Linked DNA regions of Homo sapiens. The protein of the gene in region 6 interacts with the protein of the main gene of each other region in a biochemical or structural test. Each region holds a gene or a part of one and is shown on either strand. Other genes may lie near its edges.

Evidence for each region.
Region 1: the proteins of SLCO1C1 (region 6) and DEPTOR interact in a test that uses a peptide from one of them, tested with the Homo sapiens proteins (one large-scale study listed by IntAct).
Region 2: the proteins of SLCO1C1 (region 6) and PDZD4 interact in a test that uses a peptide from one of them, tested with the Homo sapiens proteins (one large-scale study listed by IntAct).
Region 3: the proteins of SLCO1C1 (region 6) and USH1C interact in a test that uses a peptide from one of them, tested with the Homo sapiens proteins (one large-scale study listed by IntAct).
Region 4: the proteins of SLCO1C1 (region 6) and PTPN4 interact in a test that uses a peptide from one of them, tested with the Homo sapiens proteins (one large-scale study listed by IntAct).
Region 5: the proteins of SLCO1C1 (region 6) and RIMS1 interact in a test that uses a peptide from one of them, tested with the Homo sapiens proteins (one large-scale study listed by IntAct).
Region 7: the proteins of SLCO1C1 (region 6) and PDZD8 interact in a test that uses a peptide from one of them, tested with the Homo sapiens proteins (one large-scale study listed by IntAct).

The regions. Positions count from the first base shown.
Region 1 is NC_000008.11:120,006,222-120,009,721, forward strand, and holds part of DEPTOR (DEP domain-containing mTOR-interacting protein), read left to right. Parts: intron 1-583; coding exon 584-654; intron 655-2,807; coding exon 2,808-2,912; intron 2,913-3,500. UniProt on the Homo sapiens protein: Negative regulator of the mTORC1 and mTORC2 complexes: inhibits the protein kinase activity of MTOR, thereby inactivating both complexes. DEPTOR inhibits mTORC1 and mTORC2 to induce autophagy.
Region 2 is NC_000023.11:153,827,745-153,831,748, reverse strand, and holds the start of PDZD4 (PDZ domain-containing protein 4), read left to right. Parts: upstream 1-1,204; 5' UTR 1,205-1,450; coding exon 1,451-1,510; intron 1,511-1,789; exon of another isoform or gene 1,790-2,016; intron 2,017-4,004.
Region 3 is NC_000011.10:17,509,917-17,513,416, reverse strand, and holds part of USH1C (harmonin), read left to right. Parts: intron 1-1,362; coding exon 1,363-1,515; intron 1,516-2,895; coding exon 2,896-3,012; intron 3,013-3,500. UniProt on the Homo sapiens protein: Anchoring/scaffolding protein that is a part of the functional network formed by USH1C, USH1G, CDH23 and MYO7A that mediates mechanotransduction in cochlear hair cells. Required for normal development and maintenance of cochlear hair cell bundles.
Region 4 is NC_000002.12:119,758,652-119,762,721, forward strand, and holds the start of PTPN4 (tyrosine-protein phosphatase non-receptor type 4), read left to right. Parts: upstream 1-1,270; 5' UTR 1,271-1,733; intron 1,734-4,070. UniProt on the Homo sapiens protein: Phosphatase that plays a role in immunity, learning, synaptic plasticity or cell homeostasis. Regulates neuronal cell homeostasis by protecting neurons against apoptosis.
Region 5 is NC_000006.12:72,176,550-72,180,049, forward strand, and holds part of RIMS1 (regulating synaptic membrane exocytosis protein 1), read left to right. Parts: intron 1-3,025; coding exon 3,026-3,366; intron 3,367-3,500. UniProt on the Homo sapiens protein: Rab effector involved in exocytosis. May act as scaffold protein that regulates neurotransmitter release at the active zone.
Region 6 is NC_000012.12:20,750,609-20,753,886, forward strand, and holds the end of SLCO1C1 (solute carrier organic anion transporter family member 1C1), read left to right. Parts: intron 1-66; coding exon 67-184; coding exon of another isoform or gene 185-287; intron 288-1,697; coding exon 1,698-1,920; 3' UTR 1,921-2,778; downstream 2,779-3,278. UniProt on the Homo sapiens protein: Mediates the Na(+)-independent high affinity transport of organic anions such as the thyroid hormones L-thyroxine (T4), L-thyroxine sulfate (T4S), and 3,3',5'-triiodo-L-thyronine (reverse T3, rT3) at the plasma membrane.
Region 7 is NC_000010.11:117,279,108-117,281,440, reverse strand, and holds part of PDZD8 (PDZ domain-containing protein 8), read left to right. Parts: 3' UTR 1-2,333. UniProt on the Homo sapiens protein: Molecular tethering protein that connects endoplasmic reticulum and mitochondria membranes. PDZD8-dependent endoplasmic reticulum-mitochondria membrane tethering is essential for endoplasmic reticulum-mitochondria Ca(2+) transfer.

The DNA.
Region 1 (3,500 bases), on a different chromosome or scaffold from region 6:
GTCCTAGGTGTTAAGAAGGAAGTGAGGCTGGGCGGCTCATGCGTGTAATCCCAGCACTTTGGGAGGCTGAGGCAGGCAGATTGCCTGAGGTCACGAGTTCAAGACCAGCCTGGCCAACATGGTGAAACCCTGTCTCTATTAAAAATACAAAAATTAGCCAGATATGGTGTTGGGTGCCTGTAATCCCAGCTACTCAGGAGGCTGAGGCAGGAGAATTGCTTGAACCCAGGAGGCGGAGGTTGCAGTGAGCCGAGATCGCATCATTGCACTCCATCCTGGGTGACAAGGGCAAAACTCCGTCTTTAAAAAAAAAAAAAAATTGACCTGCCCCCTTATCCCCACCCCTGGCACTCTTGCTTTCCTTCTCTTTCTTTTTTTCCTTAGCTTTGTAAGGTAGGTTTAGGGTTATTTATGTTTGCTGCTATTTACTGTCTCCATTCAGCTAAAATATAAACTGTGAGGCAGGGATCTTTGCCACTTTTTCTCACTGATGGTCACCTACGAGATATCAATAAATAGCTGCTGAATGCATGGATAGAGGACTTGGAAGTGCTTATGTCTTGACATTGTGTTTGTCTGCCAGTGCTGAAGAGACCTGTCACCTCTGAGGAACTCCTTACTCCCGGGGCTCCGTATGCAAGGAAGACATTCACGGTAGGCTGATGGTCTGGCCTTTTTCTCCCGTGCTGCCCATTTTTCTGCACCGTGTCCATGTGTCAATGGGTAGCTTATAGACTGAAATGAAAACTACTTTTCTAATTTTCTTTTTGTTTTTAGCGTAATTATGATACTAGGCTTTCTTGACCTCAAGGCACTAAGGTGCATTAGGACTTCACATGCGTTATTATTAATATACCATTTAAAAATTTTTTGATGTGTTCTTTGTTAAAGAAAAGATTTCCATTATGCATTTATTCTAATTTAATTGCAAATTTCAAGATTGGCATCATTTGCACTTGCATTTACCTTAAAATCTAATAATTTTAGATTTTATTTCCCACCATTAGTCATTTAAATTATTATTAGATTTTATGGCAAATGGAAGTGCAAATGATGCCAATAATCCCTTCTGCATTAGGATTAATTCTAGAAATTATTTAAAACATTAGGGGAGTGTTAAGCTAGAGAAAGGAAACTGTGGGATAAACTTTTCTACCGTAGGCAGGGTGCTTCGACAATGTGTGCATGCCTTGAGGTACACGAGCCTCTGACTTGCTGTGAGCAGCTCCGGACCACCTGCCCCTTCTTGGAGGTCCTTTAGGTTCCTAATGCCTACGTTGGATTTCTTCAAATGGAATGAAAGTGCTCTTTTCAGCATCACCGCACCCACTCCCCTTCCTGTGTCTCCTTCTGTCAATCTCCTCAAATTCACGTTCATACCCTCTTCAAAACACTTCTCCTCCTTCATCTTCTAACTTTAGTGGCATTGCCTCAGGCTGGGGGAGAATTCTATCCACACTCAGTCATGCTGCAAACATTTGCTGAGGGCTATTTCACATTCTGAATGCTGAGGAGTTAATAGGAGAAAGGCGCTGACAACATGTCTGTACCAGAGGAAAAGATAAACTCCACCTTCGGAAGTGAAATTGAGTATAATATACAAATAACAGCAAACTGTAAAGTAACGGAAGTGCCTGAAAATCTTGAGCATTTCCACAAAAATTTTCATTTGCCTCCCTGTTTTTCCTCAGTCTCCAGCATTCAAGAGAGGTAGATTGTTATTTTGAAAGTATTTATTTTTGATTTTTAATTTAAATGCCAACATTGTTAGTAATTGATTGTGAATGTGTTTCAGCTGTGTTTTGGTTGGGATATGTGTGAAAGATGTGGCTAGGAGCTGTCCAGGGAATTAAACTGCCAGCTCTAATAATGATTTCTATAGAAAAGGCCTTCTCTAATTCCAAACAACTTTTGGATTAGAGTCTACTTGTACATTGTGAACTTTATGTACTTTTTCACTTCTTTTCCCCCCTTGGTGGAGAAAGGGGCATGGTGGAGCCCTTGGTGGAGGGCTCCCTTGGTGGAGGCTGGGCATGGTGGCTCACGCCTGTAATCCCAGCACTTTGGAGGCTGAGGCAGGTGGATCACCTGAGCTCAGGAGTTCGAGACCAGCCTGACCATCATGGTGAAACCCTGTCTCTACTAAAAATACACAAAATTAGCCAGGCATGGTGTTGCATGCCTGTAATCCCAGTTACTCAGGAGGCTGAGGCAGGAGAATCGCTTGAACCCGGGAGGTGGGGTTGCAGTGAGCTGAGATTGCACTACTGCACTCCAGCCTGGGTGACAGAGCAAGACTCTGTCTCAAAAAAAAAAAAAAAAAAGCCAGGTCTCTTTATTTCCCACCATTAGTAATTTCAATAATTATGCTAGACTTCAATGACGTTGCAGGATCAAGAGTGTATCATTTGGATACTGGGGAAAAGAACAAACTTAGAGCAGAAATTGTATCTGGAGAGACATTTCAACCACGTTACGACTTTTTCTAAACCTTCTATTGGAGTCTGACATTAAATTGTATAACAGCCTAAGAAAGAGAAAATCTTCCAGTTGTTTATTGAATCATGCCCTCATGGGAGCATCTTCTTTCTGCCAAACAGGTTAGATTTTTTTTACCACCTTTTCTACAGGGAGATGCCCGGGTTTGTGATAGAAGCAGTGTTCCAATCCCCTGGCAGGGAAGAGAGAAACGGAGGAAAATATGTCACAGTGTATACTTAATCCTGGGCTGGTTTTCTCTCCCTCAGAAGAATAAGCAAATTGCCGGAGACAGTCGGCTGCTTGCTAATTGTGGTTTTCCTCTCTAGATTGTTGGTGACGCGGTTGGCTGGGGTTTTGTGGTGCGAGGAAGTAAGCCATGCCACATCCAGGCTGTAGACCCCAGTGGCCCTGCAGCCGCAGCAGGAATGAAGGTACTAACGGGTCTTTCTCACCCTCTTTTATATCTGTCTTGGGTTCTTCATGCTAAATTGGCCATGATTCTTACTAGGGATCCAAACCCATCTTATTTTGTGTCCTTTTCTATTTCTGCCCTCTCTTTCTTGTTCTCCAAAGTCTTTAACCTTTCCCTGGGTCTTCCCTCTCCTCTAATAAACATTTAGAAGTGTCTAGCCAGGCGCGGTGGCTCACACCTGTAATTCCAGCACATTCAGAGGCCAAGGCAGACATATCACTTGAGGTCAGGAGTTCAAGACTAGCCTGGCCACCGTGGCGAAACCCTATCCCTACTAAAAATACAAAAATTAGCCGGGCGTGGTGGCACACACCTGTAATCCCAGCTACTCAGGAGGCTGAGGCAGGAGAATCGCTTGAACCCAGGAGGCAGAAGTTGTAGTGAGCCAAGATCGCACCACTGCACTCCAGCCTGGGTGACAAAGCGAGACTCTGTCTCTAAAACAAAACAAAACAAAACAACAACAACAACAACAAAACAACATTTAGCAGTGTCTAAATACCTCTAGCTTAATTTCATTATTTGGTGCCATGTGTACTTTTTCTCC
Region 2 (4,004 bases), on a different chromosome or scaffold from region 6:
TGGCTGGGGGTTCCCTCACTTGCCCAAACCTGGAAATGAAGCATGTAGCAATTTCTCCAAGTGATCTCCTGCAGCCGGGGCAGCCTCTGGGAACGCAGACTTCCACCCGCTGCTGCTTTCCAGGCAAAGGCCTTCTCCCTCCAGGCTTGTCCAAGAAGACGGGGAGGTGGTGGGAGAGAAGAGGAAGAGATGGAAGGGCTGTGAAAGCGGGGACCGGGTGAGGGCTGGGGCTGAGGAACAGGTAGGCGGCGGGCCCAGGCTGGCCAGTGCTGTGTGCAGGCCCGGGTCCCAAGGCCTCCGAGGCCACTCTCCCCACGACCCACCCCCTCCCCACGCTTCGCTCATCCTTTTTTCTTTCTCTCTTTCTTTTCTTTCCTCCCTTTCTCTCTTTCTTTCTTGTTTTAAACAAAGGTGTCCGTTTCAAAGACAGCAGGGAATGGCTGAGTTGAAGGAGGGATGCAGTCATTTAAGGCGAAGCCCGAGGAAGGAGCAGAGGCGTGAGGGCTGCTGCGTCCAAGACCGGGGAGAGGGGCTGAAATCGCGGACTCTCTCTGGGGGACCCAGGAGACTGCTCCTCCTGGCAGGACCCCTCTCTCCCAGAGCGGCATCGCGCAGACAACGCGCCTGGTGCCCGCCCCTCAGGACCGGACGCCGGGTGTCGTGGGGTGCCTAGGACCCCCGCCCGCTTCCGTCGAGCGCCCGCCCCCGGCTTCCCGCGCCGGCTCCAGCGCCCCCGCCGCTCCCTCCCGCAGCCGGCCCCGCTCCCCTCCCCGCCCCTCCCGGCGCGCGTGCGCCCCGTGCCCGCGCCCCTCCCCCGCCGCCGTGGGCGCGCTCGCGTGCCCGTCGTCCCGGGCGGGAGCTGGAGACGGCCAGCGGCTGCTGGACGAAGAGCGGGCGCCGGGAGCTCCGAGAGCGCGGCCGGGCGAGGCGGGAGCGCGGGCGCTGGCCTGGCCGCGGGCGGGGGCCGCCGCCGCGCCGCTGCCCCCCTGTCGCGGGCCGGGCCGCGGCGCCGAGCGCGAGGGCCGGGCTCCCGGGGCTGGCGGCCATGGGCAGGAGCCGGAGGCGGCAGCGGCAGCGGCGGGCCCCGCGGGCGGGGAGGCGCGCGGCCCACGGCCCCTGACGGCCCCTGGCGGCCCGGCGCGCCCCCGCGCTCCCTGGGGGGCCGTAGCCTGGCAACGCCCGGCGCGCCCGCCCATCCCCCGCTGCCCTTTTTCTCCTGGCCGGGTGCGAGGGAGCATGCCCGCGCCTGGCCTCGGCCAGCGAAGAGTTAACCTGAGGGGCGAGCCGCTGCCCCCACCTCGGGGGCGTGCCCCCCTCCCCCGCTAGGCGGCCCGCCCCCCGCGCCAGGGTATGGCCCCTGGCCCCGGCCCGGGACCCGAGGTCCCGCGCCCGGGTCAGTGAAAGGCGTCTTCCCGTTCCCGCCCTCCGCCTCCTCTCGCCGGCCAGCAACATGGGATGTAATATGTGCGTGGTCCAGAAACCGGAGGAGCAGTACAAAGTGATGCTGCAGGTAGGGCCGCCGGCGCTGCGGCGGGGGCGCGGCCCTCCGCGGGGAGGAGCGGGCCAGTGGGGAGGCCCGGAGCGGCGGGCGTGGGAGAGCGGGAGGGCTCGAGGAGGACAAGGTAGGGAGCCGTCCGCACCCTCCCATCCTGGGGCTGTTGGGTGTTGGCGCTCCGTGGGAACCAGCCACGGGTGGGGTGGGAAGTTGGGGTTGGCCCGGGTGGGGCGCGCTTCCGTCCCGGGAGGCGCGGTGCGGCGGGCGCGGGATGGAGGTTGCATAGCAACGAGCGCAGTTCCCCGCACACGCTCTCCCCGCAGGACCCAGGGCGGGGGAGGGAGCCAGGCTCCCGCCGTGCGGGGGGCGCCGAATCTAGATCCCGGCGGGCCTGGAGCGTGGGAGTGCGTGGGCGTCCCCGGGCGCGGTCCAAGTCCGTCCGGGGGCTGGGTGCCCACCCCGACACCCACTCCCGCCTGGCCCTGCCCGAACGATGGGCTCCCGGGCCTTAGGCGTCTCGGGTGAGTGGGCGCCGCCGGGATCAGCGGGTTGGGCTCTCTGCGGGTGGCAGTGCCTGGCCGGGCTTTGCGGGGCGTGGACCAGCAGGGCCCCGCGGGGAGGGAAGGAGACGCGGGGCCCGGAGCTCGGACCTGGAGCCCAGCCCCGCGGCCCGGAACGGGGCTTCTTGCCTGTGCGTGGCGTGACTACGTGAGTGCGTTCCTGTGCCCCGTCTCTGTGTGCGCGGAGGCTCCCCCGGCCCCGCATTTGTGTACTTTCTGTGTGCACCCTGCAGACTGTCTAGAGAAATGTCCCGGATGCTGTGGGCTGAGACCTCCTAGGGCTAAGTGGAGGGAGGTCAAGGTCAAGGCACCCAGGAGCAGACAGGGCTCAGACAGGTATGCGTTTAGTGGCCTGGATTCAACTCCCGGGTTTATTGGTCTGGACTGGGAAGGAATCAAGTGCTTTGCAGGAGGGGTGTTGGCTTGGGAGAACGTGGGGGAACCCGTGCAGGGATCGGCGAGAACTCCGGGGCGGGGGCGGGGGCGGGGGAAGGAGGGGCTGGGCACGGGGGAGAATTCCCAGGAATCCGGGGACTGACTTCACGCTGTGAGCCGAGCTCCTCTGGCCACCTGGTGCGGGAGCCGAGGGGCAGGGCGGGGACGCAAATCTTGCCCCACCCTGGCGGAGCTCCTGGTCCTCTCTCCCCGGCCCTTCTCCGGGGGTGCGCGGGGCCCTCGGCTTCTCCCGTTCGCTGTCCTCCGCCTTCTTCCCTCTCAGTTCCCGGCTGCCACTCCTCGTCTCTTGTTCCCGCTGTTTGGAAACCTTGTGTGGCCATTGCCAGCCCCCTAGCGGGATAGGAATGCGACCGAGAGGGCGTCCTGTGGAATCCGTGTTGGATTCCAGGGCTGGGATGGTTGGTTGACGGGGACTCTGGATCCCATCCTCCTGCTTCCTTTTCGGGAGTCATTCCATCAAACGGCAAGCGATTTCTCCAAGCGATTCCTCCGGGGCCGTTTTGACTTTCCTGGAGAAGGATTGGTGTCGCACTTCATTTAAGGCCAACCTCGTGGGGACGTGTGGATAGGGGAGAGCGACCCGAGCTGCACCCCAGGCCTGAAATGAGCCATGGGACGACACCGGTAGCCCTTGGGGCTCCCCACAGCCCTCCGGGAAGGCCTCGGCAGGTCGGGCTGGGCCTGCCTTCAGGGAGGTGAACTTGGGTGGGCCCTCCCTGCTCTGCGCCCTAAGCTCTCCTTCATGGAAGGGACTTGCCCACCCCAAGGAGACCCGCCAGGAGGAGGGCCACTGCCGCATGCGCCCTCTGTGCGCTTTCCTGCTGGGCTCCCTTTGAAACCGTGGGAGTTTGGCTGCAAACTTTCACTTTCTACATTCCTCCTTGGCCCAATCAAAGCCGGGATTTTACGAGGAGAACCATCCTTCACAACTAAGGGAAAACAAGAGGACTGAAAAAAGTAGATACGGAAAGCAGTGCAAGCCATGAGCTGTCCCAGGGGACTGCGCTTCTGGGGGTGGACGCATCACCAGGTCCCAGCCTCTTCAGAGGAGAAGGAGCTTTTGTTCCAAAAGACAGGTCAGCTTCTGGGACCCCGTGCCTGCCTCCCGGCCTCCTTAAACACGGGTGCTCCCCCATCTTTAGGGGGCACTTCTCCCTGTCCCCCCTGAGTAACCTCGTCCGCACCTTGTCAGGGTGAGGCACTTCATGGGCCTGATTTTCAGAAAGAAGCACATGTGCATCTGCAGCGCCTTCCATCTACAATCCACAGAGGCCTGGGATCCCCAGGCCAGGAACCCCCAAGTCTCTAGCCTAGCCTTGTGTTCCAAGCCATTTTCTGCCAATGACTCACAACACTTCCAAAATTACAGCTGTATTGAGCTATCATTCTCCTACTGCACAACTTACCCTTTCAAAGTGTACAAGTCAGTGGTTTTTAGTATACTCACAAGGTTGTGCAGCCCACACCAGTAATTCCAGAACGTTTTCATCACC
Region 3 (3,500 bases), on a different chromosome or scaffold from region 6:
TCCTTATTCCTGGCCTTGGATACTAAGATGATTCAGAAAATTCAAGAGCAGATCCCCAGAAGGCTTGTTGGGGGCGGGGGTGAGCTCAGTGAACAGGGGGTTTCCTCCTTGCCCCAGAAATTGCCCAGGGTGTGGGCTGTCTCTGCTGCCCCTCTCCTGAATGCTCGCTCTGTCCTCCACGCTGTGTGTGATAGGGGCTGACCCTCCCTCCTGCCGTGTTTCCCTTGCCCCCAGCTCATCAGGGCACCATAGAAAAACTAGGACCTCGAAGACTCAGGTCCAAATCCTGGTACTATCAGTTACAAGATGTCTGACATTGAACAAGGGACTTTACCTCTCTGAGCCTCAGCTCCTTCATCAAAGAATGAGGATAAACCTACATAGGAGATCATTGGTATAAATCCCTTGGCACATAGGCAGTTCATAAATGATCATTCTCTTCCTGCCTTAGCCCCTGGCTTCCCTGCAACCCCATGAGAGAAGCAGCCAGGAATGCAGGCTCGGTGGGTCTAATTCCTACAGGAAAAATAAGGAGTCTATTTGCCTTTCATGTCCCTCCCCAAATCCTCTAGAACCCTGATGGTGAGTGTAAAGCAGTTAAGCCATTCTCTCCATGCCCTGCCTCCCAGTCCTGCAGTTTCCAGCTAGCCCTCGGTAGAGGGGCACAATTCAGAGGAAACTGTGGGTCTAGACTCTCCAGGGTGAAATGGTCCAGAGCTTAAGCATGCGGGTAAAATCTGATGTCCCTGGGTCTGAGCCCCCAGGTCTCAGTGTGACTCCTATCACTTCTAGCTTAGGACGGGACCTCTACAGATGAAGCTTGCCAGCCCTCCCAGATTTTCTCTGGAATCTCCCAGGATGCATCTCTGAATCTGAACATGAGATGATGCAGAAGGCATGTGCCAGATACTGGAAAATCAGCACAATGCCCTTTATTTATATGGCACTTATTTATTTTTTTATTTTATTTTTTATTTATACAGAACTTTTACAAAGTTCTTTCATGGATGTTATTTCATTGGCACTGGGTGGCAAGCCTGTGGGGGAGGTATTTTTACCATTTTGGAGATGAGGCAAATCAGGCCCAGAGAGGTTAAGGAACTTAGCCAAGGCCACACAGCTAGTTAGTGAACTAATAAGCCAGTCTTTCTGGCTGGTAAAGAGAATGTGTCTCCCACTCTGCAGTAGGTAGCAGTGGCCTTCCTGTCCTAAACCTGAGGTCTGATGTCCAGAGTGGTGAGAGAGCTGGGGGAGGGGCTCACCATGGGATGGTTGTGTTATGTGAGGACTGGATGCCCCGTGTGCTGTGCTGTCGACACTATTTCTAACCTTTGTCATATAAACAATGCCACATCTACTCAGAAAGGAAAAGATAAGAAGAAAGCCAAGTATGGCAGCCTGCAGGACTTGAGAAAGAATAAGAAAGAACTGGAGTTTGAGCAAAAGCTTTACAAAGAGAAAGAGGAAATGCTGGAGAAGGAAAAGCAGCTAAAGATCAACCGGCTGGCCCAGGAGGTATGTGTCCTGCCTGCAGGCCAGGCAAGCAACCCTGGGACACAATGTGGTCGTTCTCCATGTGCTCCCAGAGGACCAGCTGGAGTTGTTCTCCTCAAATGGCATACAAGGGTGGAGTGAGCCCTTTCCTGCTCCCCAGCCTGGAGAGAGAGATCATGCCACCTGCCCAGGGCCATCTGAGGTTAGCTCCTGGCTTAGGAATTGAAACTAATCTCCTTGCTTGGGGGTGTGAGTCTTGCTCCTGGCTTTGGAATTGAAACTAGCCTCCTTGGTCGGGGGGTGTGAGTCTGAGGTTAGCCTTTCTGACCAGATGGTAGGTCTCAGGTTAGCCTTTGATACACCTGGCTTAGAGATTTGAGTCTGTCCTCTTCACTCTACCCCACCAGAGTCTAAGGCTGGGCCTCTCCATCTCAGGTGTGGCTCTGAGGCTACTTAGAGTATGGTCTGCGGCTAACCCTTCTGCCTTGCTTGTAGCTTTGAAGTTAGGCTTCCACTGACCTGTCTACGAGTCTGAATCACTCTGGCCTCCCTTCCCAGGTTATTGTAAGACCAGACCCCCCCCCACCCAACTTAGCTTGGCTCTGAGAATATGGGTCTGAGGCTAACCCCCTTATGCAGGTGGTAGGTGCGAGGTTATCTCCCAATTAATCAGGCTATCAGTCTAAGGCTGCTCCCCTCAACATAGGGTGTGTCTAAGGCTAGACCTCATCAACCTGGGAATATATCTGAGGCTGTCCCCATGAAGACATGTCCAAAGCAACCTTACACCATGAATAATTCCTATGCTAGGTGAGATGGGTAACCTTAACTCCCCAGCTGTAGGAGGTATCATTGTTTCTGCTTCTCTTTAACGCATCCATGAATCAGAATGCCAATTTGATTAGATTATAAAACCAGAGAAGTCCTGGAAAATGTGAAATGCATTAGGTCTGACATTATGAACAAATTAGCCACAAAATTAAAAATAAGATTGAACTTATGCTTCTGAGGGCAAGGCAGAATGGAGCAGGAAAAAAAAGAGTCAAGTTAAACTCTTGGAATGTGCTGGGGGAGGCTACAAAAACTCCATTCTTGGAAAATCATAAGAGCCTCAGGGTTCATGGGGATCTGGGATCCAGCTAATCCCTCACAATACATAAGCCCCTTTTCTGATTTTGCCTACAAGTTCTGCTTAGTGAATTTGACACCCCGCCACTCTCTTCTCCCTTGCTGCTGCCTCCTTGAGGGCCAGTTGGAACAAGCCCAGGTCTCTTTCTAGATAGCTGATGCACCTCACAGTACTCTGGAGTTTCTAAAGGAGTGCTTTCATGCTATTTCTATCCACATGTTATTCAAATGTGCCCTTTGTCCTCTCCTTTCTGCGCCGATCCTGGGTCCCAGGTGTCTGAGACAGAGCGGGAAGACCTTGAAGAATCGGAAAAGATTCAATATTGGGTGGAGAGGCTCTGTCAAACGCGCCTCGAGCAGATTTCCTCTGCTGATAATGAGATTTCAGAGGTAACAGAGCCCTTCTTTCCACATAGACCCTCCTGCTGTCTTCAGAATGACCCACTGTGGGGACAGCGGGAGGTGAGATGACAACTAGCAAACGTCACTAGCCTCACAGTGCCCATCCACTGTCCAGGCCCACCCCTACCACCCCACTCCCCTCTTGAGGAGGAGGGATATGTCTGTATTTCTGGGTATACTCCCAGAGTGATCTCTAAGTCCCAGCTCATCTGCGATAGTCTCAGTTAGGCCTGTTGTCCTGGCATCATGACTAAGAGTCCCCCTTACACTCTCAAGGGCATTCCAGTTTAGAGAATGAACTCTGTGAACACCTTACCACCCACAGATGGCATAACTTGGGGCTCTTCTGCATTTGGGCACTCCCTAACAGCAGCCTAGTATGGCCTCAGCTGGGCATCCAGGTGGCAGAGGAATGGCGCCCCATGGTTCTGATGTAAGGGTGGTGGGTCTCCAGTAGCAAGAGAAACAGATTAGAA
Region 4 (4,070 bases), on a different chromosome or scaffold from region 6:
GGTTGGAGGATGACTGGATGTTGACAGATGACAATGAGGTGAAGAGCATTTTAGCAGAGGGAATGGCATGATCAAAGACAAAATGGAGAGTCAGAGGCAGGAATGCATATTTAGGGAGGAATGAATGAGCACTGGCTACAACAGAGATCTGGGAAGAAAAGCAAGTGAAGGAAGTAAAGCTGGAAACATGGATTGACAAGTTGCCTTTTTCAAATGGAAAAACTAACAGGTGTGAGGGAGAAGAGAGTCAATAGAAATTTCTGTCTTTTCCAGATTTGTTCACATTCCCCTGATTTGTAGTCATTTTGTCGGCTTGGGAAAGTGGTTTTTGAAAGATCGTCTTTATAAAGGTAGGCTCTGATAGGATGCTCAAGCTAAGAGCAAGGAAGGACAAAGAAGGCGCCTGGCGACAGAAAAGGGCACTAACAAAAATTGGGCAAAAAGGAAGTGTGGCGGTCCCCAAATCCCTTCTTCCTCCATTTCAGCTGAGATCATTCGCCAGTAGGCAACTGTGGTATTACCAATAAGTTTGTATCACCAATAAAATATTATAATGCACCTGGCTAAAAACCCTGGCGTGATAACACCAAATTCATGTTATTAGAAGGAATTAAATTTTAAAAAGCACACCGTTCCAGGCACACAGAAGGAGCCCCCGAACGTTTGTTTTATAAACGCAGGTTGGTTGCTGAGGCTTTGTTTTGGAGCCTACGTTTAGGAGAGGAAATGATTCAAAACTGCCCCCCAAAACCTATATCCTCCAGGAGCACTGAGGTTGGGGCGACCTGCTGCCAACTGGTCTGGTTTTCCCTTTTAACACACGCTTCTTGCCCACTATCCGGTCCCTGCGGTCAGTGGGTGCAGCAGGGGTCGCAGTCCAAACAACCAATCGCGACGCGGCTGCGGGGCGGGGGCCACAGCGCTCCGCCTCCCCCCTCCAATCCGCCCTCCCAATCCTCCTAGGCCGCTCTCTCTCGCACCTGCGTGTCCCTCTGCGCTCCGACTGGTGCGACTTCTCCCTGCGCTAGCGAGGCAGGGTTTTGGCCTCGCCTCTCGCGAGATCGCCTCCTGTTGCTGCCGCCGCCGCTCCTGGCCACTGACTGGCGGCGCCTGCGCAGCCGCCATGTTCGGTTGCTATGCTGCGGCCTAGGAGAGGGGGTGTGCTTGAGGGAGGAGGAAGAGATAGAGGAGGAGGAGGGGGAGGAAGAGGAGGTGGAGAAGGAGGGGGGTGACTGAGCTCCTCTTGCACTCTCACACACAAACGCTGCCCAGGATTACCCGCCAGCTCACGCCGCGCAGTGCGCTTTTCCGCTCCTCGCGCCCCACCACCAACATTGTTCTCTCAGGACTCCTGGGTCCCAGGGGCCGGAATTGGGCCTGAGCGGGAGAGGAAAGAGACTTGGCTTTGGCCGCGGGGTCGGAGGATTGGGGCCAGGCCCCCTCCCCCACGCACTTTTGGGGGTGTGGATTATCTCATCCCTGCAGGGAGGTAGGAGAGGTCGCCGGCTGCCCGCCTCCCTGCCACCTCCCCAGCGGCGCCGGCCCGCGGCTGCCCAGCAGCATGAGGTGGTGCTGGCGGCTCCGGGTCGTGGCGCGACCGCTGCGGCGGCGGCTGCTCGGGGGGCGCTGAGGTAGCCCCCCGGAGCGGCACGGAGGACGCGCTTCTCCTCTGCGCGCCGGGGCCTCGAGGCTTTTTTTCTCCAGCCGAGAGGACGCGGCTGTGATATACGAAGGTAAGAGGTTCTCCGGTCCCCGCCGGCCTCTCGGCCCTGCACGTTGAACGGGAGGCTCTTACCTGCATGTGTGGCTCCTGGGAGGTGAGCCAGGTGGGGCAAGCCGGAGGTACGAGGATGATTTGAAAGGAAGGAAAAAAGGACAAAAACAAACAAACAAACAAACAAAAAAACGCTTTCTTTCCTTTCTTCCTGGGACCTCTGCTTTTGCGGGGGTTATAGTTGGAATCTCTGTTATGGGTCAGCGAAGGGCCAAGGGATGGAATAGGTGCGGAGATGGAATGTTCCCAGTACCTAAACTCTAGGTAAAGCTTTGGAATCTTGAGTTTTCCATTGCTGGTAGAATTCCTTTTTTTTTTTTTTTTTTTTTTGGCTCATATGAGCGCTTCTTGCACGCTGCATGAGCCAACTATTCCTACCATTGAAGTTTTAAGCCTGTTATGATTCTACCAGTATATACCTGTATTTGGGAATCTGTAGTTGAGCCAAAAAAAAAAAAAAAAAAAAAGTTGAGATGTGGGTAAACAGTGATGCATTTCGCAGGGTTTCCATAAAATGGAACAGCTTACAGTTGCACAGGTGATGTGTGGATGTTTCTGCAAAACTTAGGGTGGAAGATTTTATGTCTGGGCTTGCATCATGTAGTGACATCAGTATGTACAAGGACGATTTGTAGGATTTTTCAAAACGCCTGTTCTAGGATAACTTGTTATGCATCTGCAATATGCCAGCTGCTTTTCGAATAAGAGGTTTCAGTAATACTAAGTTTCTGTGTCCAGATCTTGGGCCCAGTTGAAACAGTACAGCTGATTGGTCACATTTAAAACATATTTATGGAGAAAGATAAAAGGCCAATGTGTCCGACTTGCAAAAGACAATTAGAGTAGAAAGAAGACTGGAACAGTAAAAGCCAGGGCATTTTTAAATCTTGGTTTTCTGAACTTTAACGTGCCAGAGGAAAAAAATTTTTTTTCAATTTTAAGGGGGAAGGAGATGGCCTTAAAATAAAGGATTGTTCAGAGCCTAAACTGTGCTTAATGGAATAGAGCTAGGTATATCATCTAAATCTTGAATTTGACTAATATAAATTCAGCTTTCTTTTAAAGAAAAAACTCGTAAGCAGAAGTTTGTGTATTCTACAGAACCTCTTCACTAGCTCGTAAGTGTGATCATTTTGTGGACATCACTGTTTTTTTGTTAGAATAAATTTATGCTCCAATTACCACAAAAGCAATTTTTATGTCTCTTCGCATTTTTTATGGTACACATATCTTTGTTACATTTTGCATTGAAACACGCACGGTCCCATAGTATCATAATCTTCAGTGATTTATAAGAGAAACAGTCTATTTTGTACATGGGAATGTTTGTCATGTTGCCAGTCTGTTTTAAAAATTTGGCAAGAGGTTTTTAAAATCCAAGGAGGCACCACTATTTTGTAGTTTTTAAAAATATTAATTGAGTAGGTCCATGTTTATTAAGTTAGAAAATCACGAGTTCCTCAAAAGTAGTAATAGACGAGGATGTGATTTTTCTTACTGCCCATTTTCTAACATCTTAGCTTCAGAGCTGTAGGTATTGAATTGAGTCAAACTTGTGTTTTTTTCTTATGTTCTAATTAAATATCTTTTAAAATGTCCCTAGTAACATTGTTACTTTAAATTTATAACACCCAATTTCTAATTTAGGCTAGGCATAAAACCAGCATTGATTGAACGTACTTGCTAAAAATACTTTCTGGGTCGGATGTACTTAGAATGCAGCCTCAGGAAATTTCATTTGAACTATTCTGTGACCAGTGTACACTTCATTATTGTTGAAGGACTTTTAAAAAAAGTATAGATCTCTCATACTCGATTTAATCAGTTTGAGCATAGATGCCTAACTTTAAAAAAAAAGTATAATAAAGTGGGATAGTAATACAATTTACGTGAGATGGTAATAAAAACTTTTCAGCTTTTTTTTTTAACTTGTATGACTTCGTTAGGTTGTTATTAAACTGTGATTTGTATTTTTAAAATAGTTTTGTCTGTTAAACATAATTGAGGTGTACAGTACAGTATCCATTGTTATCTGTTTAGTATTTATTTATGACTTACAAACTCTAAAAGCGGGATCAGTGATCATGGTTTTTAGTAAGTTGTCTTTAAGGAGCAAAGTAAGAGACTAGCAGAAAATTGCAAGGAGGTTTGTTATTGAGAGTACTTCTGCCCCCCGCTTGAGAGTTAATATGGCCACTTTTAAACAAGAAAAGTTTTCCAGAAACGTGGAAATCTTGTTTGGTGTATGTTTAGGGGCAAATGTTTTAAAGTTTTGCCTAAATTCTTAGTTAGAATG
Region 5 (3,500 bases), on a different chromosome or scaffold from region 6:
GGTGATATTTTGATAAAAATAAATATTTTAACATTGCCATGGTTAATTTTACTTTCAGTTTGGAGGATGGATTGACTACACTTATAGTTAATTTAAAAATACAAATTTAAAAATGTTGTGGTGTACAAGGAAATAAGACATAGAAAAAGTTTGGAATTATACAGTATTTTACTAAATGTTAAAAACAAAAAAATTAACAAAGCATCACAGACTTAAATGAATACAAAGTATTTTAAGAATAGAATTTAAAATGCCTATGCTGTTTTGACATAGTCACTAATTGTAACCTTTTGAATAAACTGGAAATGAAATTAAATTGTAAAATTCAACTTATTTAATAATAATAAATTGTGTTTCTTTTAATTGATCTGGTAGCAGTTCTGCACATACTCAAAATTTGGAACATGCCCAAATCTGGCAGTTAGTTCTCATTGACCCATTTTTTGTAACGTTTAAAAATGTGAAGCAATCAAAATAAGATTGTGATAATAATTTCTAGAGAATATTCAAATGTAAAATGAAGAGTATCCTTTACCCTTCATCAGTATTATTGTGCTCCTTTCTGCTTCTTTATTTAGCTTTATTCAATTTTAGAAACTTTGTAATTGTAAATTTGTGTTTTCTGGTTTTTTAAAAACTGCATATTTATCCTAAGTATACCTTGATATTTCTGTAGAAAAGAACCTACTTGATTTTATTTTATTTCTTATTATTTATTTTGAGATGGAGTCTCGCTCTATCGTCCAGGCTGGAGAACAGTGGCGGGATCTCAGCTCACTGAAACCTCTGCCTTCCGGGTTCAAGTGATTCTTCTGCCTCAGCCTCCCAAGTAGCTGGGATTATAGGCATGCACCACCATGCCCGGCTAAGTTTTGTATTTTTAGTAGAGACGGGATTTCACCATGTTGGCCTGACTGATCTCGAACTCCTGACCTCAGAAGATCTGCTCCCCTCAGCCTCCCAAAGTGCTGGGATTACAGGTGTCAGCCACCACACCTGGCTGAAAAGAACCTACTTTAAATGATGATAATAAGTTGCTTACTATTAGTCTGAGAAATACAAATTTAACGTCTTCTTATTTGATGTAAAATAGTCAAAATTTCATACCAGTCTTGTTGAATTACATGATTTCAAACTTTCTTATTATGGTCTGTCAGCTAAAGAGACAAAAAACAAACCAACCAACCAAAACCTTCCCACCACACACGTCCTGTCCCCACTCAGGGTTCTGGGCAGAAGAGACTCAGTGTCACTGACTGTTCATGAAGGTCCTGGCCCTGGAGTACTGCACCTTTTAATGTTACCCTTAATATGTCCATGTTCAAACAATCAGGACTTCTGAGGGACCTACTCAGTAATAGATTTTGTAAAATATACCCTTATTTGGCTAGCACTTAAATTGAAGTTACTTTCCATAAAATCCTTATTTTGATATAGGTTTATGCAATGAATTGTTCATCTTGTTTGACATCTTAGTAGATGAGAATTCCGTAATATTGGTTATAATACTTTGTGTAGACATTATACCTAACTGCTTTTTTGAACCTAGTACACTTCATTTTATGACTGGGAAAGTCTAAATAAATCAATTAACCTTCATGAATTTTAAATTTTTTATAGCAAGTATTTCTCTTCAGTCTTAATTTTTCCTATATTATAATTCATTTGAGTTTTCTTTCCTGGAAAGCAGTTCTTAATTCACCTGCAGTATTTTCCTTTTAAAAAAGTGTATTACTTTTTTCCTGTCTTTTTCTTATTCTTATTTTAGCTTCATCTTATTCTATGGCTACAGTTACAGTTTTTCCCCATTTATCTGAATATTTTCAGTAGTTCATTTTCTTCATTTGACCTACTAAACAATGCTTCTTTTACTATTTTCTATTACTTATCAGTTAATGTTTCTACGATTTATTCATCCTGATGCAATATTTTTGAGTACATGTTGATTGAGTCAGTATTTGTGAAAAGGAAGCCTAGAGTTTGGTAATTAGTTTTTCCTGTGGAGGTAGTTTCTGAAGTAGAAACAAACACAAAACACCTGAAGTGCTTTTGGAGGCATGTAACTGAGGCAGCGATGTAAAGTCACAGCACAAAGAAACAGAGGTACTGAGGATATTTGAAAAGACAGCTCATGGAGCTGTTAGCACCTATCTTTGCCCTGTGACAGCTAGTCATTGCTGCTATTATTATTTTTTATTATGATAATCGTCCTCATTATTACATTCATTTTAAAGGTCATCAAATGGAGAACAGACATATAGTTTATTTTAAGTGGTGCTACATCTTATAATTTATCAGTGGATATGTTGCTAAATGATGGTTCCCCAATAGCTCTCCTTGGGGAACATTACATTGGAGTGGTCACATATGAATAAACTCAGAGTCACATTTATTGCTTTAGTAAATATGTGCATGGAAAATTATATTTTATAGCATAAATAAGCTTAAGGTTAGTTTATCACTAAGAAACTAGAGAAAATATACACATTGACCTTTTTTGTGTGCTTACTTTGTATGTTTCTTCTATGTGAATATTTTTAATATTGCCTTTAATTGTGGGTGATTTTTGAAAAGACAGACTTTTTAAAAATACTTGCAAGTACTGAGGTTTATGTATTTACGTACTGATTCTGTAGTTCCTGGTAACATTTTTCTTTTTTTTTCCTGGTAACATTTTTCTAATCAGTTAACTACCTTGCTTAGAACATTTTTGCTAACACTCCAGAGTCAATTATAAAAAATATGACAGATATATGGTAAAAGGAAATTCAGAATAATCAAATCAGAAATGCTGAGAAAAAACCTCTACTCTGGCTGCTGAGAGGCTCTCTAGTCTCAGACAAGTCCCTGTCTAGGCATTCATATATTTGACTGTGACTTGTGGGAGGACCATTTTCACAAGAAATTTGCAAGGATAAATATGAAAATGAATACTGTTCTTTTTTTCTTAAATATATTTTAAGATACTGAAAAATTATTTCCAAGAGGGCATAAAAATTTATATTGTTCTTTCTTCTTCAAATAGGTTATGTGGGTATGCAATTTATGTCGAAAGCAACAAGAAATCTTAACCAAATCTGGGGCATGGTTCTTTGGAAGTGGCCCTCAGCAGACAAGTCAGGATGGAACCCTGAGTGATACAGCTACAGGTGCTGGCTCTGAGGTACCAAGAGAAAAGAAAGCACGACTCCAAGAGCGATCGCGGTCTCAGACACCCCTAAGCACAGCAGCTGCCTCCTCCCAGGATGCTGCTCCTCCCAGCGCACCACCAGACAGGAGCAAAGGGGCTGAGCCCTCGCAGCAAGCCTTGGGGCCTGAACAGAAGCAGGCTTCATCCAGGTCTAGAAGTGAACCTCCTAGAGAGAGGTAATAGTTCTTTCACCCTGTAAGCAAAAGGCAAGATTTTGCTAGGAGAGCAAAGCCGTTTTCAAGAATTTAACTTCTATTACGAGGAATATGTGGAAGTAGTACTTCTCAGGCCCCACATGGAAAAACAAAAG
Region 6 (3,278 bases):
GATAATCGTTCATAGACAAAAAGATGTGCATATGTTTTTAACAGCAATTATTTGTTTTTCTCACAGCAGGAATCCCAGCTCCAGTGTATTTTGGAGTTTTGATTGATACTTCATGCCTCAAATGGGGATTTAAAAGATGTGGAAGTAGAGGATCATGCAGATTATATGATTCAAATGTCTTCAGGTACCAAATCAAAAGCATTCCCGCATCTCATTGCTACAGCATCCCAGATTTACACAATGCCACTGACACTAACAAGTTTTCATGTCATTTCACTGCTTGTAAGGTAAAGAATAGTCTAATCAAAAAGTGTGATCTGTAGTCATAGAATAATTATATTATTATTTGATTAGATCTTTGATTTTGTCCCTATTCATTACCTTGACCCCCATTTTAAATGAGTAATCATTTTTAAAATATGACAAAAGTGTCCAGAATACAGTAGAATTTTGAAAGTTTATGCACACAAATGGGCAAGTATTTCCCTGAAATTCAGAGGCATTTAAATTTAGGTCACATTTTGGGTTTGATTTTTATTCTTTTTCAAACTGAGCCAAACTGTACCACTTACGTCAGATATAATACCCCTGGGCAAGAGTTGGATTTGGCTCTAAATCTGTCCGGCTTTTATTGCCAAACTAATGTTCAATTATTCTCGTACTTGAAATGCATGAAAGTAAAAGGTTTTCTCTGTGTGGGTGAGTGTATATGGGGGTTGGGTGGCGTGGCTTTTTCACTATGGTATCATTCAGTTCAGCTCATTAAACATTTAGTCCCTTATTGCTTAAAAAAATGCAAAAAGCATTGAAGCAATGGCTTAAAAGCAAGAAAGATTGTTTAAAAGACTTACAAACTGAGCATTTTCTGGAGAAATAAACTTGGTACTGAACCATCTAAGTTGGATGTGAATTGGGCACACCATTTTGAATAAATTTGTTTGAGTTAATAGGTTTTGATGCTATGCGTGAAATTTATTTTGGTCTTTGAAAGGGACCCAATCTGTGAGTATAATTTAGTATTTCCTCACATTTTTGCTAAGGCTGTATTAACTGTAATGTAGAGACAATGCAACTCAATCAGAGATTGAGAGTATGTTTTCAAGGTAACCAGAATGAGACATTCAACCTGTTCTTCCATACCTTAGCATCTTCTGACAAAGCATAGAACTATAGGTTTCTCATGAAATAAACTGATTTAAATCTCTGGTTTATTCTGAAATCATTCTGCTTTACTCAGAGCTCCAATTCCCATTAGCATTTCTTTATGCAAGTTTTCCAAAGAAATGAAGTTGGGAAAGGTCTGAGGATAGGGTAGCCACATAATTTATCATTCAAAACTGGGTACTTTTGAGTGTGAAAAGGAGCACTATTAAAATTATACTGGGCCAGCACTAGCATAAACTGGGGCTGTTCTAGGCAAACAGGGATATGGTTACCTGGTCTAAGGAAATAATTTACAGAGAGGATGAAACTGATTATGTAATTAGTAGTAACTAAAAATGATGGTGCTACTAAGACATTGCTTTATTTTATAAACTGCCTTCAACAGTCTGTCAGTATTTCATAAAACAGTCTTTTATATAAGCCACCAAATCTACATTCTTAAAGAAAACCATCAGTATGATATTATTACCTTTTAAATTTTCTTTCAAGTTGGTTGTTGCATTAATTATAACAGAGATTCTCTCTTCTTCTAGACATATATATCTGGGACTAACTGTGATACTGGGCACAGTGTCAATTCTCCTAAGCATTGCAGTACTTTTCATTTTAAAGAAAAATTATGTTTCAAAACACAGAAGTTTTATAACCAAGAGAGAAAGAACAATGGTGTCTACAAGATTCCAAAAGGAAAATTACACTACAAGTGATCATCTGCTACAACCCAACTACTGGCCAGGCAAGGAAACTCAACTTTAGAAACATGATGACTGGAAGTCATGTCTTCTAATTGGTTGACATTTTGCAAACAAATAAATTGTAATCAAAAGAGCTCTAAATTTGTAATTTCTTTCTCCTTTCAAAAAATGTCTACTTTGTTTTGGTCCTAGGCATTAGGTAATATAACTGATAATATACTGAAACATATAATGGAAGATGCAGATGATAAAACTAATTTTGAACTTTTTAATTTATATAAATTATTTTATATCACTTACTTATTTCACTTTATTTTGCTTTGTGCTCATTGATATATATTAGCTGTACTCCTAGAAGAACAATTGTCTCTATTGTCACACATGGTTATATTTAAAGTAATTTCTGAACTGTGTAATGTGTCTAGAGTAAGCAAATACTGCTAACAATTAACTCATACCTTGGGTTCCTTCAAGTATTACTCCTATAGTATTTTCTCCCATAGCTGTCTTCATCTGTGTATTTTAATAATGATCTTAGGATGGAGCAGAACATGGAGAGGAAGATTTCATTTTAAGCTCCTCCTTTTCTTTGAAATACAATAATTTATATAGAAATGTGTAGCAGCAAATTATATTGGGGATTAGAATTTTGAATTAATAGCTCTCCTACTATTAATTTACATGTGCTTTTTGTGTGGCGCTATAAGTGACTATGGTTGTAAAGTAATAAAATTGATGTTAACATGCCCAATTATTGTTCTTTTATGAATCCAATGAATTTAAAACTATTGTTAAATATAATACTGCCCCACTTTAATATATGTAAGCAACTTCCTACTTATACACGACGTGTTCCTAAAACATGTTTGAAAGGTGAATTTCTGAAAGTCTACAATAAATGTAGGTGTTACAACAGGAATGGAGAGTGATGGATGAATTGATGGGAAGTCTGAGTGTGGTACCTTTTGGTGCTCCACAGGCCCACATCACAGGGCCTAGGGACTCCTGCACAGGGAGTTCCCCCTGGGACAGCCTGCCAGATAGCTCTGTTTCTCTGCAACTGAAAAAGTCAAGCCAAGAGTTTCTTTTCTTTTTTTTTTAAGACATAGTCTCACTCTGTTGCCCAGGCTGGAGTGCAATGGCGCGATCTCGGCTCACTGCAAGCTCCGCCTCCCGCGTTCACGCCATTCTCCTGCCTCAGCCTCCTGAGTAGCTGGGACTATCAGCGCCCGCCACCATGCCCGGCTAATTTTTTGTATTTTTAGTAGAAACGGGGTTTCACCGTGTTAGCCAGGATGATCTTGATTTCCTGACCTCGTGATCCACCCGCCTCGGCCTCCCAAAGTGCTGAGATTACAGGTGTGAGCCACCACGCCCGGCCAAGAGTTTCTTCTTTCCTGACTTCCTGATGCTCTTCTG
Region 7 (2,333 bases), on a different chromosome or scaffold from region 6:
ATAACAAAAACATCTCAGTATACTTCATTACTTATTTAAGCGTGATGTCTTTTTTTTTTTTTTTTTTTTTTTTTTTTTTTTTTTTTTTTGAGACAGAGTCTCGCTGTCTCCCAGGCTGGAGTGCAGTGGCATGATCTCGGCTCACTGCAAGCTCCGCCTCCCAGGTTCACGCCATTCTCCTGCCTCAGCCTCCGGAGTAGCTGGGAGTACAGGCGCGGCTAATTTTTTGTATTTTTAGTAGAGACGGGGTTTCACCATGTTAGCCAGGATGGTCTCGATCTCCTGACCTCGTGATCCACCTGCCTCGGCCTCCCAAAGTGCTGGGATTACAGGCGTGAGCCACCACGCCCGGCCACGTGATCTTATTTTAAAAGAACACTGCTATAGAAGAATTTACACACCAAATTCCCTGAAAGCTAAAGTATTGTTCCATAACTTACACTTGAGGCAATCTGCTCAGTGTGTAACCACTTTATAAAAAATAACTTACCATTGATAACCTGGAAGGTGGACTACTTGTAAGTAGCTGGTGTTTATTGATTAAACCATGGAAGTTTTCATGATACCCAAGCATGTTGCTGAAACTGATGCATTTGAAAGAGCTGTTGAAATAATGCAAAACTTTGGTTTTATAAGAATCTACTCATGTTTTAAAAGTATTTAACTCTGTAGACCACAATTATAGAAAGCTCAGTAATGCTGCTAATGACATTTGTAAACTATATCTGTAATGTAGTGCAATATTTTTATATTTCACTGGGAGAGGCAGTAGAGACATCATAGTTGTACTTTAGTGCAAGTGGGGGAACACTCCAAATAGCCTAGAGTATAGTAAGGTACAAAGCTTCAATGAAAAAAGCTGTATTATATTACATTACTGATGTAATCTTGCTGCCATGCTATGTATCAATAGCTAAAAAATAATAATAAAGACTACCACAGAAAACAAGAATATCTTCATTTAATGAAATCTTTAAAAAAGGTGATTGCTGCATCTCTATGGAATTATCTTCTGGTATAATTTGGCCATGCAGAAAAGCATAACAAAGTCCACTTTTCCTAAACAAAATTGCTGTTTTGCAGACTGCCCCAAAACATTTTTTTACTATTGTTTCCTTATGGATTATCAAGTTTATGGGTTTCCTTTGGCTATGTATTAGTAATTAGACTTTAAAATATATTTTCTACATTAGTATTAGCTGAGTGAATGGCTTAGACAAACTGAGCAACATTTTAGCATTATTAGCAATCATAATAGGCTATACTTCTTCATATCAAGCCTTATATTCAATATCAGAAGTACTTGAAATAAGTGGCTATTTTGTGATGCTGGGAGGAGAAAACACAACCTAAAAATTTTGAGGGGTACTATCAAGTTCTAAATGTATAGCTGAATTTTTTTTAAAGCAATTTGGAAATATTTGGCTCTTAAAAATAAGATAAATAATAAAATGTTAAGTCCCCTAAAAGTGAATAAATTTTAAATACCTACTTTTAAAAATACTGTCTTCTAAATTGACATAATTGCTTTTCTTACCAAAAGAAGGAGAGGTTCCCCTAATTCCTTTTGGGCCATAGATCCGCTTTTAGGATCTGATTAAAGATGTGGACTTTCACCGCAGGAAGATACCCATGGGCACACCATTCAAAATGTATCAGATTTCAACGGTTTTACAAACTCCCCCGGGATTAAGTCAAATGGGTGGATATTACAGCTGTTTTCATCAGATATGGTTATTTGTTGACAACCATCAGGACAACAATGTTTATAGATGGAAGGATAACTTCCTGGTTTTTTTCCACATTGAATGTGGCTAGTTACATATCTCAATTTAAAATAAATTGTGGAAAGCCAAAAAAGTATGGTCAAGCTAACCTGGGGTGGCTTTTACCTGATGCCTACAAGCACAGAAAAATAGTTTTTAATTAAATATCCACAGTCAAAATGATACCTTATGTATTTTATTCCAACAACATTTGGTTTATAAAGGAATACAAACAGGCACAAAACATGGTTCAGAAGATTTATTAAGTAAACTTGCTAAAATATGGACAGATACACTTAGCAGTCAAACAGTTGAATATTCATTGCTACCTCATTAAAGTTTTTGTATCTGTATTACCAGGTCCAAACATAAAAACCACCTCTGTTCAAAAAATAAATGTTCAGAGAGCTGTATGTTCTTTGTTCTGGTATGTACATTTTAAAAAAACACCTCTTTCCAGTCTTGCTAACCAAGAATATTAGTCATATAAAAGAACTTAGAATTTTTTTCCCCAAGTACAAGCTATCTTTTGCTCCAAAACAGTTCTGAAGGTTTTATTTATATTTT